4 linked regions of the Homo sapiens genome follow. Changing the gene in region 2 together with the main gene of any one other region gives a genetic interaction. Each region holds a gene or a part of one and is shown on either strand. Other genes may lie near its edges.

Region 1 (4,756 bases), on a different chromosome or scaffold from region 2:
AAAGAGGAATGAAATTCCCTGGTTCACTGCTATCTCTTTCATTTGAGGAAAGCTGTAAGACAAAATTCATGGATTAATAATGAGAGCTCTGATCCACTTTCATTTCCTTGAATGGGTCACTAGTTTTTATGATGAAAACATACTATGTTATACTTGTTATACAAAGCAAAATTTTAGCCATTACTGATTATATGAAAATGTATCCCAAGATTATAAATGATTTGATGACCACACACAGCCCTGAGTAGTCAGTAGCCTTTACAGAGAACTCTTGCCAGAAGCAATTCACCTTATAATGGGTACTAGAGATAGCCTCTTGTGAAGAACAAGGTTTCTTTTATTAGAAGGTTGCATCAGTGAACACCGATCAGCATTGAGGACTGTGACAGTATGAGAATCTGCTGAAATGAGTTAGGGCAAGCAGATGCAAATCTCTATAAAGACCATAAAATGGCCTAGAGAATGCACTTATATATAACTCCAGTTCTGACAGGGGGGAATAAAGGGTAACTTCCTTCTATAAAATCTATCCTCGTTCTTTAGACTTGGGATTTAAATGCTCAGTTTTTAAACGAGGAATTACTGTGTGCCAGATACTACGATATAATCTTTATACATATAATCCAATAGAAGCCTCACAATACACTAAAGGTAGCTAATCCTTTCCTTTTTCTTTAGCAAATCAGGAAACTGGTGCTTAAGAGGTTACCAAGATTATACACCTCATCTGTTTGACTCCAAAATCCAAACTCTTCTCACCACACTATCTCCCTAGGAGAAAACCATTCCTGGAATTAAAATGGCGGTACCTCATTAGCCAACCTATAGTCATACTTTTTTTGGGAAACCTCTAAACATGGAATATAGAAAATTTAGAAAAACTGCTCATAAATCCACACCTGAAGATAAATCCTACCAATACAAACACTGCTAATACTGAATTATTTATTTTCTAGGCACTTTCAAATCCAGAAAAAAAAGTTTAGAGTTATTTTTTTCACAGTAGCAGGGTAGTCCCAATGTTATGACCTACAAGTAATCCTTAAAATCCAAATCTCTTTGGGGTATGAATCTGTTGTTAGTTAAGTGGCCCTCTGATTTTCTGAGTGGATCATGCACCAAGGAATCCTCTCTGCAGCTGGCCTATTCTGGTTCTGGCATTAGCTTTGCTTCACAATATAAAACAAGTTCTGAGCAGTCTCTAGTCCTCCCCAAGTGCACACTCTGGGAAATGGCAAATTTTTTTAGCCTAGGGGTAGATAACTTTATTATGGGGCAGTACCTTTATCACGAAAGCTCACACTATATCACACCAACATTTGTGAGGTATGTTCTGGGATTCCTAGGTGCAGATGTGATACAGGCTCTAGTCGCTAAGCACACACCAAATATATTGTTTCTGATACCCAACTCTTAAAGCATTACTGTGTACTTGGGAATTTAGAGATTGTTTATTGAGACAGGGATTCATTGTCCAGGCTGGAGTACAGTGGTCTGATCATAGCTCACTGCAGCCTCGAATTCTTGGGCTCAAGCAATCCTCCCACTTCAGCCTCCCGACTAATTGGGACTATAGGAACAAGCCACCACACTCAGCTTATTTTTTAACTTTGTACAGATAGGGTCTCACTATGTTACCCAGGCTGTCTTGAACTCCTGACCTCATGTGATCCTCCCACCTCGGCCTCCCAAAGTGCTGGGATTACAGCCATGAGCCACCACACCCAGCCAGAGATCATTAAATCCTGGTTTCCTACTTATGTATATCCTTTGGTAAATCATCCAAACCTCTCTAGTGGTACTTTCCTAATCTGTTCAAGTGGATTAACTCCACTTCACAAGACAAGAACATATAAAAGTGCTTTGTGCAAATGATAGACAGAGTAACAATACTGGCTGAACCTCAGAACACAAAGCAGATTGGAAAGGTATATTTTCAGATTTAAGATCCTAGGTAAACCTGGAAGCCAAATGTGGTCATCTTGCTCAAGTTGGGCCTCTCCAATCTATAGATGCTATCAGTTAATCCAATTCAGACCAACAGCAGGAAACTTTGGAAGTAATGACAGTCCCTGTCTGGCAAATACATAGCCCTGAAACGAGTGACCCCAAAACTGCCCAGCAGCCTGAGCATTCACTGTAATCCATAATAGTTCTTTAAAAAAATTAAAAATAAAAAAAATAGAGATGTGGTCTCACTATGCTGCCCAGGACTCAAGCGATCCTCCTGTCTCAGTTTTCCAAAGTGCTGAGATTATAGGCATGAGCCATGGCACCTGGCCCATAACTGTTCTTAACAAACCACCTTTGGAAGAAGTCAAGTGCTCTCTCTCCAGTTCCTTGAGAAGCACTTAGAATGCATAGTAAAGACCAAGTTTTAAGTAAGAGATCTAGTGTTACGGCTCTTTTAAAATTTGTCTCGCAGGCTTTCCGGTTTTTGCCAGAAAGCCCTTAAAAAAAAAAAAAGAAAAAAAGAAAAAAATAGGAAGAGATATAATCCCACCATACATACATTTAGGATGACCCAGGATTTCCCAGATTAACAAGGTCGATTATTCCTTGCACAACTCCAATATTTCAAACACCATCTCCCACTCTTACTACCGCCTGTCTGTTCTCCAGACACAGCAAAACCACCAAGAATGCTTGACAGTCTAATTTCAAAAGACAAAGTCAAGGTAAAAACAGCTAGTGCTACTGTAGTGCCTTCAATTCTGGATGAAAGAAGGTGTTTTAATCCTTTCTTCCTGTCAGGAATTCCCCTATGAAAGCCAGAGCACATACCATCCGAGCTGGGGCAGAGTTCTGCCTCTGTGTGAAGAGATCTTTACCCTCCTGGAGTCCATGAGAGTGCAGGCAGCCACGAGATACAGGTCTTACTGGCTTCTTAAACTCAAAGGCTTCCTGCAAGACATAGTTGAGACATCTACTGTCCATGAAAACCAACTCAGGCCTCAGCTTGGGTGAAAGAGGCAAGAAAGTGGGCACTGATCACCTTTCTGCCTCCAAATTAAAGTTTCACCTAATTCCAACAATAGATCTGCGTAACTAAGAATTTCCAAGGCTCTGTCAACAGCTAACTTCTAAAGTAACATCTTTTTCTTGTCATACTGTATTTCCTAACACAAGTATCTGCCAAATATACAAAACACGATGAATAAGCTAAATCACAAACTTTCTGAAATCTAAAGCAAAAATAAATAAAATCTAATATAATTGCCTGTGAATAGTTGTCAAAATTTTCCATCTAGGTCCATCTGTTTCAGGGCTTCATATTTTCCACCTCTTCCTACCAACTGGAGATAATTTTTTCTACTTATAATTATTCTATTCTATACTAAAAGCAATGAAAAAAAAAAAAGCCCTACTGGTTTACTCAACGTGGACGATTCTTACAAGCATAATGTTTTTTAAAGCCAGATATGATAGAATACATATCGTATGATTCCACTTTATGGAATGAAAACACTCACAGGTCCCTTGCCCTAAAATATTCACTTAAGAACTCATAATTAAGTATTAAAAGCAGTAATGGCTAGCACTGGCGTGGGTGGCTGAGTTCCCCGTTGCCCTTGGTCTCGGGGTCGCGGTCGGCACTGAGGCTGCAGCTATCATGGTGAACTTACTTCAGATTGTGCGGGACCACTGGGTTCATGTTCTTGTCCCTATGGGATTTGTCACTGGATGTTATTTAGACAGAAAGAGTGATGAACGGCTAACTACCTTCCGGAACAAGAGCATGTTATTTAAAAGGGTATTGCGACCCAATAAAGAAGTTACCTGGAAGTAAAGACTGGCTGAATTATAGAATGTTCACATTTTAAAGTTCTGAGAGAAATAAAACCATGAAGAATCAAAAAAAAAAAAAAAGCAGTAATGGCTAATATTACAGTGATTTCTATGCCAACACAGTACTAAGTACTTTCTGTGCATTAACTTTTTAACCATCAAATACAACCTGATTGTCCCGATTTTACAGGTGAGAAAACTAGACCTTGCAGGTTAAGGAATGTGCCCAAAATATTGAAGTAAAACAGGACAACTCCAGAGTGAGAGCTCTTTAACCACCATCTATGCTGTTTTCCCTTTAAAACAAAGCTCCAGGCAAGCAACCCTGAGAAGCTATTTCGGGGGAAAACCAGGCATCAGTACAGCTTTGCCCTGGTAAAAAGCACTAGAGGCTGATACACTGTTCCAAGCACTCAAGGCTGGAACTCATTTCCATATTCTTTCTCATGACACTTCCCAGGTTGATAAAGAAATCATCAGGAGAGTTCATGGAGGCAGTGGGTTTCACACTAAACCTGAAGATTGTAAGGACAAGGATTATGAACTGTGGCATTTCAGCAGGAATGGAAAAGGGGAGAAAGTAAATATATAGAAATACAGTAGAGAGAAGGCTGAAAAAATTACAACTGTTTTGGATGCCTACTCTGTGCAATGTCTAAAAGAACAAAAAAGCCAGGCTCATTCAGGGTAGATAACCAGAAATTCACCTTCCAAGCCACCATTTCAGTTACTCTGAGATTCCCTAGAACTTGTTGACCCCGTTCTTACAAATACTGCCAAAGAGCCTTTTCCTAAGCTTACAATTCATTTCAGGGTCAGAGCAAAGAGGCAAGGACAGCCTGGGCAGAGCCTTCCAGACAAACACTATTTGTACATGTAATTACTCCTGTGAGCTACAATCTGAGCAACTCCCGCCTGTCAGGCACCATTTTCAATACTTCATACATAATCTTACTTATTGCCACAA
Region 2 (3,429 bases):
GCCCCCTCGACATACACACACGCCCCCTACTCCCACCTCCGCCCATGACTCAGAGGATATGAGTCGTGTCTTAGAAAAAATAAAATAAAAAACAAAACAACTTTTCTGAAAGGCTAATGTCACTGTGAATCTGGCCTTTGCTGCCTGTCCCCACCCCTTCAGGCTCCAGGGAACCCCAAGAGAAGGTAACATTCTCAGCCCAGGGACTGGCAGGGACCCTCCATTCTCCCCACTCTGCCCTTCTCTAGATCAGGAAAGCTGTGGGACTTCTGACCTGATCTCCGCAGTGTCCTGGGCAGGACCAACCCCCCAGAAGTAAGACCTTAGTCATCGCCCCACTCTCCCCAGTTAGCAAAGACTCACTGCCATCCCTGTACCAGGGAAGGGGGTACACAACTGAGATGACTGAGCCCCTTCCCAGACCTCCCCACAGCCGTGGCCATGGTGCCAACAAGAGGATCCTCTGCTAGTCATCCACCCAGGGGTAGTCCCATCTCAAGTCTCACCCGGGTCTTGGCAGCACCCTTGTTTTTGCTTCCCTTTGGTCGGCCCCGAGGTCTCTTAGGTGTTGGCACTTCGCTGGGCTCCTTCTGTAAAGACAGAGGGGGTAGTCAGGGACAGTCATCACCTGTTTCCACCCCCTCAGAAGACACAGCCCTCTGCCTCCTCAACAAGGTTAAGTCAGCAAGAACCAAGAACCACAAACCATCCCTGACCTAGGAATCCCTTCAGGATCCAAAGCTCCAGTTTGAGCATCTTTGCAAAGTGCCTCCCACCTCTCCCCTTGCTTCCCTGCAGGTTTCTAAGATGCAAAATGACAAGAGCCCAGAAGACCCCTAGGAAAGGCATTCTGGGGACAGAAAGACAGTTAGGTGGCTCTGCCCAAGTCTCAGTTCTGACACTTATCTTGGGTGGGACACTTAATGCTGGAGCCTCAGTTTCCTCATCTATAAATGGTGAAGACTTCCCTTGCAGGGTGTCATGGAGATTAAATGGGTAATGTATGGTTATCTAGCACTGGGCCATGATCACTGCCCACCCTCTCAGATGACCTATGCTGGACACACACTCCCTGCCTGCACTTGCAAACCTGGAGCCCATCCAGGCTGCCCCCAGAGAAGGGGAATTATAGCCGGACTCCAGAGATCCCTGCCATCATTCCCACTGAAATTTTAATAAGCCGTAGATAGAATAAAAAGCTGCTGCATAATGCATATAAGGTGTGTGGTGAAGGCGCGCCAGCTACTGTTTCCTAGGGGGCCGCCCATGGTCTGTCTATAACCAGGGTCCAGTAACCCTGCACCCCTCCTGACACCTCCCACTGACCATGGCTAACAGGTGGGGTAGGAGGGGAGGCTGAGGGAGCTAGGCTAAGAGGACAAATGACCCCACCCCAGGCTCTGAATTCCAACACAGCAGACTCCTCACAGCTCGTGTCTCCCTGGGCCCAGGTCAGCACAGACCACTCTCCACCGTACGGACAGGGAAAACCTGCAGGTGAACAACCTGTATCATGTTTAAGGGGCAGAGGTCGAACTCAACTCCTCTTACCTCTCTCCCAGGGAAGGGAAGTAACTGGGCTTCACCAACAGCCACCCTTCACTTGGGTGACAGCTGCCTCTGTAAGAGGCCAATATGGGGTCCCCCCCATGCCCAAATGGCCATGCTCCCTAGGGTGCCCCACAGCGCCAGGCTGGCAGCCTCATCCTTCTATGAGGACTTTGTGGGGAGAGCAGCACCAGGGTTCTGAGGGTCACTGCCACCAACTCCCCAACATTTTTGACTTCTTGGGCTTCAATTTCCATCTAAAGAGCCAGGGGCAATGCCCATTCCAGAACTACTCATAACTGGCCTGTGCACAAACAGGTGCTGGCCCACGCAGGCACCCGTTTCTCACCTGGGATGAGGAAGTACAAGAATCGACCATAAGTATTCAGCAACTTTACAGCAAATTGACAAAAATCATTTTACGTGCACTGAATCTAATGATTAAAAACCCTGGGCTTCTATGTTCATTTTTGTTCATTCGTCTTTACTGCATTTTAAAATTACTGGTCCACAGTGGATTGGAAATTAAGAAAAAGGCGAGTGTTTTAAGCACTGGCCATGTGACCTCTGGGGTGCTTTAGGTTTGGACTGTTTGCCATTGGCTTCAGAATTTATCTTGAATTCCTCGGCCCCCGGTTCTCTCCTGGGGTCTCTATAGAGATCTGACCAGGGTTGCAAGTGGGGCAGGAGTACACACAGGTGGGAGGACACACCCACACGCTTACTGCGCAGAATCATTCTGCACCCTCCATGCATGGTCTCGCCTGCTGAATGAAACTCCAGGCACCTCCCTAGCCCCAAAGGGTAAACCAAGTGAAGCAAAGGTTTGGACACCCACCTGACTCCCTACCAGCGCTGTCCCGGGACTCACCGGAGGCTGCTTGCGCGGCCTGCCCCGGCCCCGCTTCTCAGTGCCGTCCTTTTCCTGCTTGGAGGCCAAGGGCTGGCTGGACTTCGAGCTCGACTCACTCATCTTCCCTTCTCTAAGGAGCAGGTGGAAGAGTGATGGCTGGGATGCTGGGAGACAGAAAAGTGCTTTTAGACAAACATCTCGCTTCAGCCACTTTCTACCCCCTCATCACCCACACCTTCAAGGCACACTGCAGAAAACTGTGCTCCCATGGGCCCCCAGGCCTCCTACTCTGCCCAGGATGGAGGGGTCTGCCCACCCCCAGATGCTGCCAAGGGCGGGGAAGGGCCGTTGGCCCTAATCAGCTTCTTATCTATCTCCTGTTCAGAAGGGCTCTTTGTTGTCCTGCCTTAACACCGCCCCAGTGCAGCGTGGTGGGGGGGGTCCCAGGAGGTACAGCCAGCCCAGACCTAGCTACATGGGTGAGGCCACCCTGGGACAAAGGTGTGGGGAGGTGAGATCTGACGTATTGCCAGCATCCCCTCCTTCTGTAGTCAACTGCTGCCCTTTCTCTTTAAGAGAAAATCCAGCCTACGCAGTTCAGTGGGAAAATGGAAAGAATGAGACCTTGCGATCTGGCAGCTATGGACATTGATCCCCTGCCCACCTCACTGACAATATTGCCTATCTGGCAAGGTGCAAGACTCAGGACCAAAAAGAGCCAATCACACAGCCAGGGGTGGTGCCCACCACCAGCTCTCTTCTCTGTTCTCACCCAGGGTAAATCCCTGGAGAATTCAGATTGGTATAATTGAGGGAGGGAGGAGATGGTTGAAGCTAGTGGGTGAGGTGGGGGAGGAAAGTGAGCCCAAAGCCAAAGGCCACCCTCCTCTTTCCCCTTACCCCTCCTCTGCCCAACTGGAGTCAGATGGGACTTTGTCAGATGGGTAGGGAATTCTCCAACTGAAATGCACCGCCTAACAGACCCTGGCTGGCCCTCATCCTTTAGGATGAGGTTTAGGGCTCATCCT
Region 3 (4,756 bases), on a different chromosome or scaffold from region 2:
GCGGTGTAAGTGCTCTCACTGTAGCTGATTTCAGCCTATTGATGTGACATCATTGATCGGGGAGTTGGGAAGAGATGTGCACAATTAGTTTTTGCAAGCCAGCACCAGCACACCACCAGATGGAGACTGTTAACTCCCCAGTGCCCTCCCCAAGGATGGTGCAAGCAGTGATTAGAGTGATAAGAACCCATAGCCACAGCAATCTTTTCACAATTCAAATCTGATTCTGCTACCCCATCTCCATCGCAGCACTTCAATGGCACATTATTGCTCTGAAAGGCAGTGTGGTGTGATGGATGAGTGTGGATGTTGGAACTAGACTGCCTAGGTTTAAATTCTGGTTCTATTGCTTATTAATTACATGATCCTGGTATATTTCTAAGACTTCCTGTGCCTCAGTTTTCTCATCTGTAAAATGGGGATAAAAATCGTCCCTACCTTAGTGTTGCTGGAAGGATTACATGCGATAACATATGGAAGGCATTTAGAGCAGTGTCTGGCATGTGAGTATTTGCTGCCATCATTAGGATAAACACTCAAATCCTTCAATAGCTCCTGTGGCCTGGCCCCTGCCTGACCCTCTCAGTTCCAGCTTATACCGGTCTCTCAGCTCCAGCTATTCTGGCTCATTCTTGCTATTCTTTGAAAACTCCAAAATCTTTCTAATCTCTGGATCTTTGTCCCTGCTGTTTTTTTTTTTTTGTTGTTGTTGTTTTGTTTTGGTTTTCTTTTTCTTTTCTTTTTTTTCTTCAAGTTCTTGCTCTGTCACTCAGGCTGGAGTGCAGTGGCACGATCACGGCTCAGTGCACCCTTGACCTCCTAGGCTCAAGTGATCTTCCCACCTCAGCCTCCTGAGTAGCTGGGACTACAGGTTCATGCCAGCACACCTTGCTAATTTTTTGATTTTTTTTTTTTTTGGTAGAGATGGGGTTTCACTATGTTGCCTAGGCTAATCTTGAGCTCCTGGGCTCAAGCAATCCTCCTGCTTCAGCCTCCCAAAGTGCTGGGACTACAGATGTGAACCACTGTGCCCGGCATGCTGTTCTTTTTGGAGGGACTCTTCTTTCTCTCTCCCACCCCTGTTTCACCTGGTTAACGCTTAGGCATCTTGAAGAAACCAGACCAGGCACTAACGAACTGGAGGAGGCCAAGGTCCCTGTACTTCCTCAAAGCTCTTATTATCCTTCATAATTATAGAGTCTTATGATTATTTACTTATCTATCACTCCAGCTAGACTATAAATTCTGTGAGGCCAGCAGACCTTGGCTGTTTGCTTATTACTGTATTCCCAGTGCCTAGTACAGAGTAGGACCTTGGTGAATATTTATTATTATTATTATTTTGAGAAGGAGTTTCGCTCTGTCACCCAGGCTGGAGTGCTGTGGCACAATCTCGGCTCACTGCAACCTCCGCCTCCCAGGTTCAAGCGATTCTCCTGCCTCAGCCTCCCGAAAAGCTGGGGCTACAGGCACGCACCACCATGCCCGGCTAATTTTTTTTTGTATTTTTAGTAGAGATGGGTTTTCACCATGCTGGCAGGCTGGTCTCGATCTCCTGACCTCGTGATCCACCCGCCTCAGCCTCCCAAAGTGCTAGGATGACAGGCATGAGCCACTGCGCCCGGCCGATGAATTTTTTTTGATAAATAAATAAACAAACAAATCAACATACACTTTGCCCGCAATGCTTTCTGTCCTCTCTCAGGTGTTCTTAGGCCCGTTTTACTGATGGGGATGCGAAGGCCCTAAGAGGAGAAGCAGTTTGCCCAGGGTCACAGAGCAAGTTCATGATTCTCAACAAAGGGCTTCTACTGCTTCACAGGCTCAGGATTTCTTTTTTTTTTTTGAGACGGAGTCACTCTGCTGCCCAGGCTGGAGTGCAGTGGCGTGATCTCGGCTTACTGCAAGCGCCGCCTGCTGGGCTCACGCCATTGTCCTGCCTCAGCCTCCCGAGTAGCTAGGACTACAGGCACCCGGCACCATGCCCGGCTAATTTTTTGTATTTTTAGTAGATACAGGGTTTCACTGTGTTCACCAGGATGGTCTCGATCTCCTGACCTTGTGATCCACCCGCCTAGGCCTCCCAAAGTGCTGGGATTACAGGCGTGAGCCACCGCGCCCGGCCCAGACTCAGGATTTCAGGCTGGAAGAAACTTTACAAGGTTGTTTGCTTCAAAACTCTACCTGATGCTCTGCCCTCTACAGCAGGGCTTGAGTGGCCTATTTTTGTATAGCCTAACAACTAAAGATGTTTCTTACATTTTAAAAGAGTTAAAAACAAGCAAAGCAAAAACCAAATAAAAACATGCCACAGGGCTGGGCGCGGTGGTTCATGCCTGTAATCCCAGCACTTTGGGAGGCCGAGGTGAGTGGATCACCTGACGTCAGGAGTTTGAGACCAGCCTGGCCAACATGGTGAAACCCCATCTCTAGTAAAAATACAAAAATTTGCAGGGCCTGGTGGCAGGTGCCTGTAATCCCAGCTATTCGGGAGGCTGAGGCAGGAGAATCGCTTGAACCCGGCAGGCGGAGGTTGCAGTGAGCTGAGATCCCGCTACTGTACTTCAGCCTGGGCAAGAGAGTGAGACTCCATCTCAAAAAACAAAAAAACAAAAACCAAAAAACATGCAATAGGCAGGGCGTGGCGGGTCATGCTTGTAATCCCCATACTTTGGGAGGTCAGGGCAGGTGGATTGCTGGAACCCAGGAGTTTGAGACCAGCCTGGGCAACATGGCAAAACTACATCTCTACAAAAAAATACAACAACAAAAAAAAATTAGCTGGGTGTGGTGGCATGCCCTGCACTACCTTGGAGGCTGAGGCGGGAGGATCACTTGAGCCCAGGAGGTTGAGGCTGCAGTGAGCTGCGATTGTGCCACTGCACTCCAGCCTGGGCAACAGAGGGAGACCCTGTCTCACAAACGAACAAACAAACAAACAAACAAACAAACAAGGAACAGAGACAGTATGTGGCCTGCAAAGCCTAAACATTACTGTCAGAAAAAGTTTGCCAACCCCTGCTGCACAGCATCTTTATCAATCCTGGCTTTAGCTTGCATACCCCTGGGGATGGGAAGTTCTCTACCTCTCAAGACAGAGTTTCCATGGTTGGAAACCAAGCTCTGCCTGGGCTTCTTTATTTCAGGATGAAACCTGTCCCCTTGTAGCTTCCATCCTGATCCCTTTGCTGCCCACCAAGGCTGCATAGGACCCATGGGTTGCTTCTGACAGCTTGGTAGAGATTTGCGGACAAGATCTGCGCCTCACTGGCCTTTTCCAGGATGACCAGCCCGGGTCGTCTCACCATTCCTCTTGGGTGGTGGTTTGCCTGTGGAAGTCTGTGGGTGGGAGACCAGCTACCCCACATCTGTGGCTCAGACTTGAATCTTGTGGGATTCTCTGGGAATCCCAGGAGCCATGTGGCAGTGCAAGGAAATTCCCAATATCTCTCCTTGTAGCTTCCCCTCCCCACTGCACCCTCATCCTTGGCCATACTCACTTCCGGGGAGCAGCAGGATGATCAGGGCAGCCCAAGTCAGGCTGCAGTTTCCCAGCCTTGCCATAGCACCAACTTGATGTTCACCTGTAGGCAGAAGGGTTGTTTAAGACCATGGGCTTTGGAGTCAGAGCTGATCTTAATCCTTGTCTGTCACTGTGCAGCTTTGACTAGGTTGCTTGACTTCTCTGAGCCTTCGTTTCTTTGCAAAATGGAAGTAACAGCAGCCTATACTGCATGGGACTTTGAGAGGAAGACACAAAATGATGCAAGTCAAGGGCTTTTCACAGTGCCTGGAACATAGGAAATGACAGTGACAGCCACAGTTATTATACTTGCCTTCCAGGAAAGAGCAGGGAAAGGAGCAGTGAGGAAGAGCATTCTTCCGCCTTCCCAGCTATCTAAGCTAGGCTACCCCTAGAGAGCAGAACCTGAGATGAGGAATTGCATGCTGGTAGTTTATTTTGAGAAGATCCTAGCAGCAGATAAGGGACTGGGGAGAATGAAACAGGGAAGGAGAGAAAGCCAGCACAAAGTTACATCATCATGTTGGTCACCTCTATGGACAACTGGGGCTCTATCCTGCTGGAACCTTCCAAAGAGCCATGTAGAACACTTCTCAGAGCTGTCCACTGGAGGGTCAATTTATCCCTTGGATGGGAGGGAAGATGGAAAGATTTACCCACTGACTCCTGCCCCCCATTGGTCAAGGGATGCCTCTTGGGGTGTTCATTCCCTGGCACATCCAGGTTGGGCATGCATGAGTACTAGGCAGGTTCTCCTGGGGAAGCCATGCCAGTGTTGTCAGGGACACTCCCTGGAAGAAAGGGAGAACTCTATGGAGCAGCTGAGGCAAGGGGCTGTCAGGTTATGCCTGCAGGAAGCTGGCTGCCTCAGCCATGTGGGCTGAGAGAATATCAAGTGGGGCACCCGAAGGGTCCAGTGTGCCCCCAATTTTGGGCACAGACCTCTGGTGGCCTTCTGGGGTCAGGCATCATGAGGTCACGGCCATAGCACCTGGATGGAGGGTGCCTTGGCTCCAGTCTTAGGAAGTATGCAGAGGTTTCTACCACTTGGGTGGGTGTCCAGCCTCATCTTCACCCTGCTCCCATTGGGGTCTTGGAGCCAACACCTGATCCTCCAGCACGAGTTGGTGCTCTTGGTGGCAGATCAGTGGGAATCGCTGGTCAGCTTGCACGTACATATCTGGACACATACACGCAGGTGGTGTCCCAGCAGATCCCTCGTGCTCAGCAGGG
Region 4 (5,437 bases), on a different chromosome or scaffold from region 2:
TCGCACCAATCTCCCCGGCAGGAAGGTGAGGAATCCCCGACCCCTCCCTGTGGCCTCCATTCCCCACTGGGTGGTGGAGAAGGAGAAATTGGGCCCCCATGGTGTCCCTTCCCCATAGCACTGCCCGGGTCCCTGGCCTCACCGTACTGGAAGATGCAGTCCCAGGCCTCAAAGTGCTCCTTCCACACCTTGGGGCTGATCCAGCGAGACAGGCTCCTGGGCATGAACATGAGCTGGACGGTGGATTTGAACATGACCTCCAGGGCATGGAGGAAGTTCAGGCTGGCAGAACTGGGGCTGTGGCCAACCAGGCCCAGCCGCTCTCCAAAAAGAGCTAAGTTGCTGGCTGCGGGGAGGATGCACTGCTGAGCACAAGGCAGCCCCAGGCCTCCTGGCTGCCTCCCCACACTCCCTTCAGTCCTCCATCCCCATCCCTGGCCACTCCAGGGTCTCTGGGGCTGGACCTTCCCGCATGGCCCACACCTTCTATGGTGTAGTGGAAGATGCTGGGCTGGACGTCCAGGGTCAGGCTCCCCCGGGCGTTCTGCAGCACCTTCTTCTTCAGGGCCTGGGAGAAGTCCCTGGCCACTGCATCCACCATCGGGAGGAACCTCTGCACGGCCTTGGGCGACAGCACATCTGGGTTCAGCCGCAATCGGTTGAAGCGCCATTCAGGCCCATTCCTACAGAGGCCAGGGCAGAGCTTGTGAGGCCGCCCCAGCAAGACACAGGCCCTGACCCGTATCCCATCCTCCTTGTCCCCAAGGGGAATCGGCCTGCAGGGAGCTGACTGGGGGCCCTGGTAGAAGCTGCCTGTTTGTGTTCGAGCTGCAGCCTTTTCTCAGAGCGGCCTCCAGGTGCTGGGCAAAGGCCACTCAGGTCTAAGCAGGGATGAGATGGTAGCTTCTGCCCACAGGTGCTGACAGGGTAACTGAGGTCATTCCCGGGACCTGGCGACCCAAGTCTGGCACCACCTCACCCATGCGGGCCCTCCCTGTAGTAACAGGGTAGGGCTTTTCTCCAAGAAAGGAGGTGACCCCTGTTGTCAAGCTTTGCCCACCTCACCCACACAGTGTCCTGAGGGGAGAGCCCCTGGCTGCCCTCTCCTCCCCACCCTTCCCCGCCCTGGGCACAGTGCCTCTGGGGCAGCAGCCTCTGCCTGTCTCTGTGAAGCATCTATATCTTCTGCAGGACAGAAACCAAGCTTTGTGCTTCATGCCATCCTCACCCACAGCCAGAGTGCGTGGGGGCTCCATGGATGCCCCCAGGGAATGGTGGGGAGGAATTTCCCCTGTCAGCCACATTCCTGCAAAACTCCTTTATTTATGTCCAGCTGGCTGCTGTGAGCTGTTGACAGTGATGACAGGCAGAAGATGCACATGCACACGTGCGCCCATGCAAGACCTCAACACCATGTGTGAAGAGACGCATGTGCATGTGTGCACAAACACTACACCCATGCCGGCACCTGCACATGCACACACACAGACACTTGTGCACACACACCACACATACATTCACACACAGACACGTGCACACACTACACATGTGCAAATGCAGGTACAGAGAAACACACAGCATGTGCACAGATGCAAGACACACACACATACAGGAGCGCTCCCCTTCCTTCCATTATGCGCACCCAGCCTCCTGGACCTGCCTTCCTGGGTCCTGACTCTCTCCCAGATGTCATCTATAGGCCAGCCTCAGTGAAGGCCCCGACCCACGGGTGCCCTTTTACCTAAACCCCACTATTCCCAATAGCGTTCCCTTCCTACCATGGAGTGGGGGCTGTCACCACTGTGACATCCTCATCCAGTCCTTCCCCCGTCCTAATGACAACATCCCTGCAGGTGACCGACTCCAAGCATCAGCCTCTCCCTGCCCACCTGACCAGGCGCCACCCTCTCCACGGGCCAGGAAACATCCTCCCCAGTGCCATCAACCGCCCCACCTTGTGCCTTGCTTCTGAGAACAACGGAACCACCAGCCACCTGCGTCCCCACCTGCCTCCTGCCCCGGACTGTCCCCATCAGGAAGGTTTGCCAGGACTGCAGGGACCCTGAGCGCCCTGAGGGAGGCTGTGGCCCCGGCGAACACCAGGCTCAGCACTCAGCCTGTGACCTGGGCCAGTGGAAGTCCCCTTCTCAGGGCCTCAGTTTTCTGACCTATGGGAAGGACAGTCCCCAGACCGCAAGAGAAAGCAGCCGCCGAGGTTGGTGCAGAGCGGGTTCTCACTACACAGAAGGGCTCATTGCTCTGCGTCTTCTCTGCAGAGGTGCCCGTGCCCATTTCTCCACCACCGCCCTGCTTCCCCAACCCACAGTGCAGACGCGACCCCACAGGATGGCCGTCCTCTGGGCCGGGTGCTCACCCTCACTGCCCACCACAGGGGCCCAGGGCAGATGTGCTTTTGGGTCCTACCTCTCTCGCCTCCCCCCTACACCCAGGCTGCCCACCCTGCTCCCAGCTCTCAGCTCCCAACTCGCCGCTTACAACAAGAACACGCCACATTTGTGCCCACGATGTTGTCTGTAGGCCACCCAGGGCTCCAGGATCATCCTGCAGGGATGCAGGCTGTCCACCTGTTGCAGCTTCTCCACATCCTCCGGCAGCATCACACACACCATGCGTGGTCCTCCCAAGTTGTACCTGTGGGGCCAAGCAGGAGGCCCTGCTGGACGGGGTCATGTCCCTCGTGGCCCCACCCTGCAGTCCCAATCCAAAGTGTCTCCTGTCCACCCTCCCTGCTCCTGGATTAGCGGCTTCACAGCTAAAGCCCTCCTGCTGGCTCCCTGGAACCTTTCAACTTTAGTGCTTCTGAGTCCTGCCCTCTCTGCAGTGAGCTGGGGTTTTCTCTGCACTATCCCCTGCCCTGGCAGCACCACAGACCAGCATGTGCTGCACTCCTTCCCCATCCTCCAAAGGATGCAGAGTGCCGGGACCTGCTGGGAATGGCAGTGCTGAGTGCCTGGCAGGGTCCTGGGCAGCAGGGGCAGGGATCTGGGTGTTCCCAGCGAGGGCCAGGGAGGGCTTTACCTGAAAATGGGCCCCAGCTCCTGGAAGGTCTGGTGCATCTCCAGGTGCAGGTGCTCATAACCCTGCTCCCTCCAGATCTGCAGCAGCCTCAGCCACCTGTTGCCTGGATGCTGGGGCATGGCTTCAAACGGCAGCACCGTCCTAGGGGCCCGAGCGGCTCTAGTGCCCAGTGCCCGTGCCCTTTGCAGGGACAGCCAGGGCGCTGCCACGCACACCTCTGCCTTTGCCCTGAGTGCCATTCCAATGCTCCCTCCACCCTGTTCAGCCCAAATCCTTTTATCTCACCCAGGAACCTGCTCTGGAAACATATCACGTCATGGGAGAACTGGCTCTGGACCTGCCTGAGACTCTCAGAGCGAAGGTCAAGGCTGGAGGCCCCCAGCCAAAGGTAGATGAAGGAGAAGTCAGGTGCCTAATTCCCCATTGCTGCAAGTCCTGCTGGTCTGAGGATGCTGAGAAAAGGCGTGGGGTCTGGACTGGGGGTCCATGCTGGTGGAAGGTGGTGGGACCTGGCCTCTCCTTTCTCCAGGGCTGAGAGGAGTAAAATGGATGGGGACTTTATCTTATCGTGAGATGAGAGGGAGCCTTGGATTCTTTTAATAGACTTTATTTTTATACCACAGATTTAGTTCATTGCAAAATTGATCAAAAACTGCAGAAAATGTCCACGTACCCCCTGCCCTGACACAGGTACACCCTCCACCACAGGAGCGCACTGGTTCCATGTGAGGAATCTCGATACGTTGTTATCAACCAGGGTCCTGGAGTCACATGGGGTCTCCTCCTGGTGGTCAACATGCTGTGGGTTTTGACAAATGTATGTAATTTGTATCCCTCCTTGCAGGATCCTAGGAGTATTTTCACTGTCTTAAAAAGAGGAAAAGAAAACCTGTGCTCTGCCTGCTCATCCCTCCTGCCCCAGTCCCTGACATCTCCGATCTTTTTATCATCACCATGCTTTGGCCTTTTCCAAAATGTTGTATAGTTGGAATGACACCGTTTGTAGCCTTTTCAAAGTGACGTATCTCAGTTAGTAATATGCGTTTAAGGTTCCTCCATTTCTTTTCGTGGCTTGATAGCTAATTTCCTTTTTTTTTTTTTTTTCTAGAGGCTGGGTCTCACTTCTTTAGTGGTTGCCCTAGAGTTTGCAATATACGCTTAAAACTCATCTCTCCAACTCCACCTTCATATAACACTATACAGCTTCAGAGGTAATGCAAGCACTTTATAATCATCAGATATTCTTAGGCTGGGCATAGTGGCTCATGTCTGTCATCCCAGCACTTTGGGAGGCTGATGCAGGTGGATCACCTGAGGTCAGGAGTTCGAGACCAGCCTGGCCAACATGGCAAAACCCTGTCTCTACTAAAAATACAAAATTAGCCAGGTGTGGTGGCGCATGCCTGTAATCTCGGCTTCTCAGCAGGCTGAGTCAAGATGAATGCTTGAATCAAGGAGGCGGAGGTTGCAGTGAGTTGAGATCATCCCACTGCACTCCAACCTGGGCAGCAAAGCAAGACTCCATCTCAAAATAAATAAATAATAAGATATTTTTAATTCCACTCACCCATCCCTTGCATCATTGCTGTCCTTCATTTCACATATACATAACTATGATCATCAAATACACTTTCTGGCTTTTATTTATTTATTTTTATTATTTATTTATTTATTTATTTATTTATTTTTGAGACAGAGTCTCACTCTGTCGCCCAGGCTAGAGTGCAATGGTGTGATCTCGGCTCACTGCGACCTCTGTCTCCCGGGTTCAAGCAATTCTCCCGCCTCAGCCTCCCAAGTAGCTGGGATTACAGGCATGTGCCACCACCACGCCCAGCTAATTTTTGTATTTTTAGTAGAGACGGGGTTTCACCGTGTTGGCCAGGCTAGTCTCGAACTCCTGACCTCAGGTGATCTGCCCACCTCGGCCTCCCAAAGTGCTGGGATTACAGGTGTGGTGAGTCACCGCGCCCGGCCTATTTTTATTGTTGTTGTTTTGTTTTAGCAAACTCTTAGATCAATTAAGATTAAGAAAAAATAAAAGACTTCATTTTCTCTTTACTGATTCCTTCTGAAATGCTCTTCCTTTCTTTATGTAGCTCAGGGTTGCTGACCTGTATCATTTTCTTTCTCTCTGCAGAACTTTTAAAAAACATTTCTGGCAAGTCAGTTCTATTGGCAGCGAATCCCCTCAATTTTTATTTACCTGAGAAAATATTTATGTTCACTTTTGAAGGATAATTTCACAGGATGCAGAATTCTAGGTTGATGTATTTTCTTTTTTCTTCTAACACTTGAAATGTTTCCCTCCACTGTCTTCTTGCTTGCATGGTTTCTGAGGGTAAGTCACATGTAATTCTTAGCTTTACTCCTATATAGATAAGGTGTCCCCCACCCA

What was found. A genetic interaction does not mean that the proteins touch.
Region 1: changes in HMGA1 (region 2) and CDC25A together harm fitness more than expected from each alone (negative genetic interaction), as found in Homo sapiens cells (one large-scale study listed by BioGRID).
Region 3: changes in HMGA1 (region 2) and CSF3R together harm fitness more than expected from each alone (negative genetic interaction), as found in Homo sapiens cells (one large-scale study listed by BioGRID).
Region 4: changes in HMGA1 (region 2) and CYP11B2 together harm fitness more than expected from each alone (negative genetic interaction), as found in Homo sapiens cells (one large-scale study listed by BioGRID).

Annotation. Positions count from the first base shown.
Region 1 is NC_000003.12:48,177,937-48,182,692, forward strand, and holds part of CDC25A (M-phase inducer phosphatase 1), read right to left. Parts: intron 3,861-4,756; exon of another isoform or gene 3,541-3,860; intron 2,905-3,540; coding exon 2,785-2,904; intron 53-2,784; coding exon 1-52. UniProt on the Homo sapiens protein: Tyrosine protein phosphatase which functions as a dosage-dependent inducer of mitotic progression. Directly dephosphorylates CDK1 and stimulates its kinase activity. Also dephosphorylates CDK2 in complex with cyclin-E, in vitro.
Region 2 is NC_000006.12:34,239,873-34,243,301, reverse strand, and holds part of HMGA1 (high mobility group protein HMG-I/HMG-Y), read right to left. Parts: intron 2,630-3,429; exon of another isoform or gene 2,566-2,629; 5' UTR 2,522-2,565; coding exon 2,387-2,521; intron 591-2,386; coding exon 507-590; intron 1-506. UniProt on the Homo sapiens protein: HMG-I/Y bind preferentially to the minor groove of A+T rich regions in double-stranded DNA. It is suggested that these proteins could function in nucleosome phasing and in the 3'-end processing of mRNA transcripts.
Region 3 is NC_000001.11:36,475,933-36,480,688, forward strand, and holds part of CSF3R (granulocyte colony-stimulating factor receptor isoform a precursor), read right to left. Parts: intron 4,149-4,756; exon of another isoform or gene 4,055-4,148; intron 3,585-4,054; 5' UTR 3,565-3,584; coding exon 3,501-3,564; intron 1-3,500. UniProt on the Homo sapiens protein: Receptor for granulocyte colony-stimulating factor (CSF3), essential for granulocytic maturation. Plays a crucial role in the proliferation, differentiation and survival of cells along the neutrophilic lineage.
Region 4 is NC_000008.11:142,914,563-142,919,999, forward strand, and holds the start of CYP11B2 (cytochrome P450 11B2, mitochondrial precursor), read right to left. Parts: upstream 3,282-5,437; 5' UTR 3,279-3,281; coding exon 3,040-3,278; intron 2,653-3,039; coding exon 2,497-2,652; intron 684-2,496; coding exon 484-683; intron 347-483; coding exon 143-346; intron 1-142. UniProt on the Homo sapiens protein: A cytochrome P450 monooxygenase that catalyzes the biosynthesis of aldosterone, the main mineralocorticoid in the human body responsible for salt and water homeostasis, thus involved in blood pressure regulation, arterial hypertension, and the development of heart failure.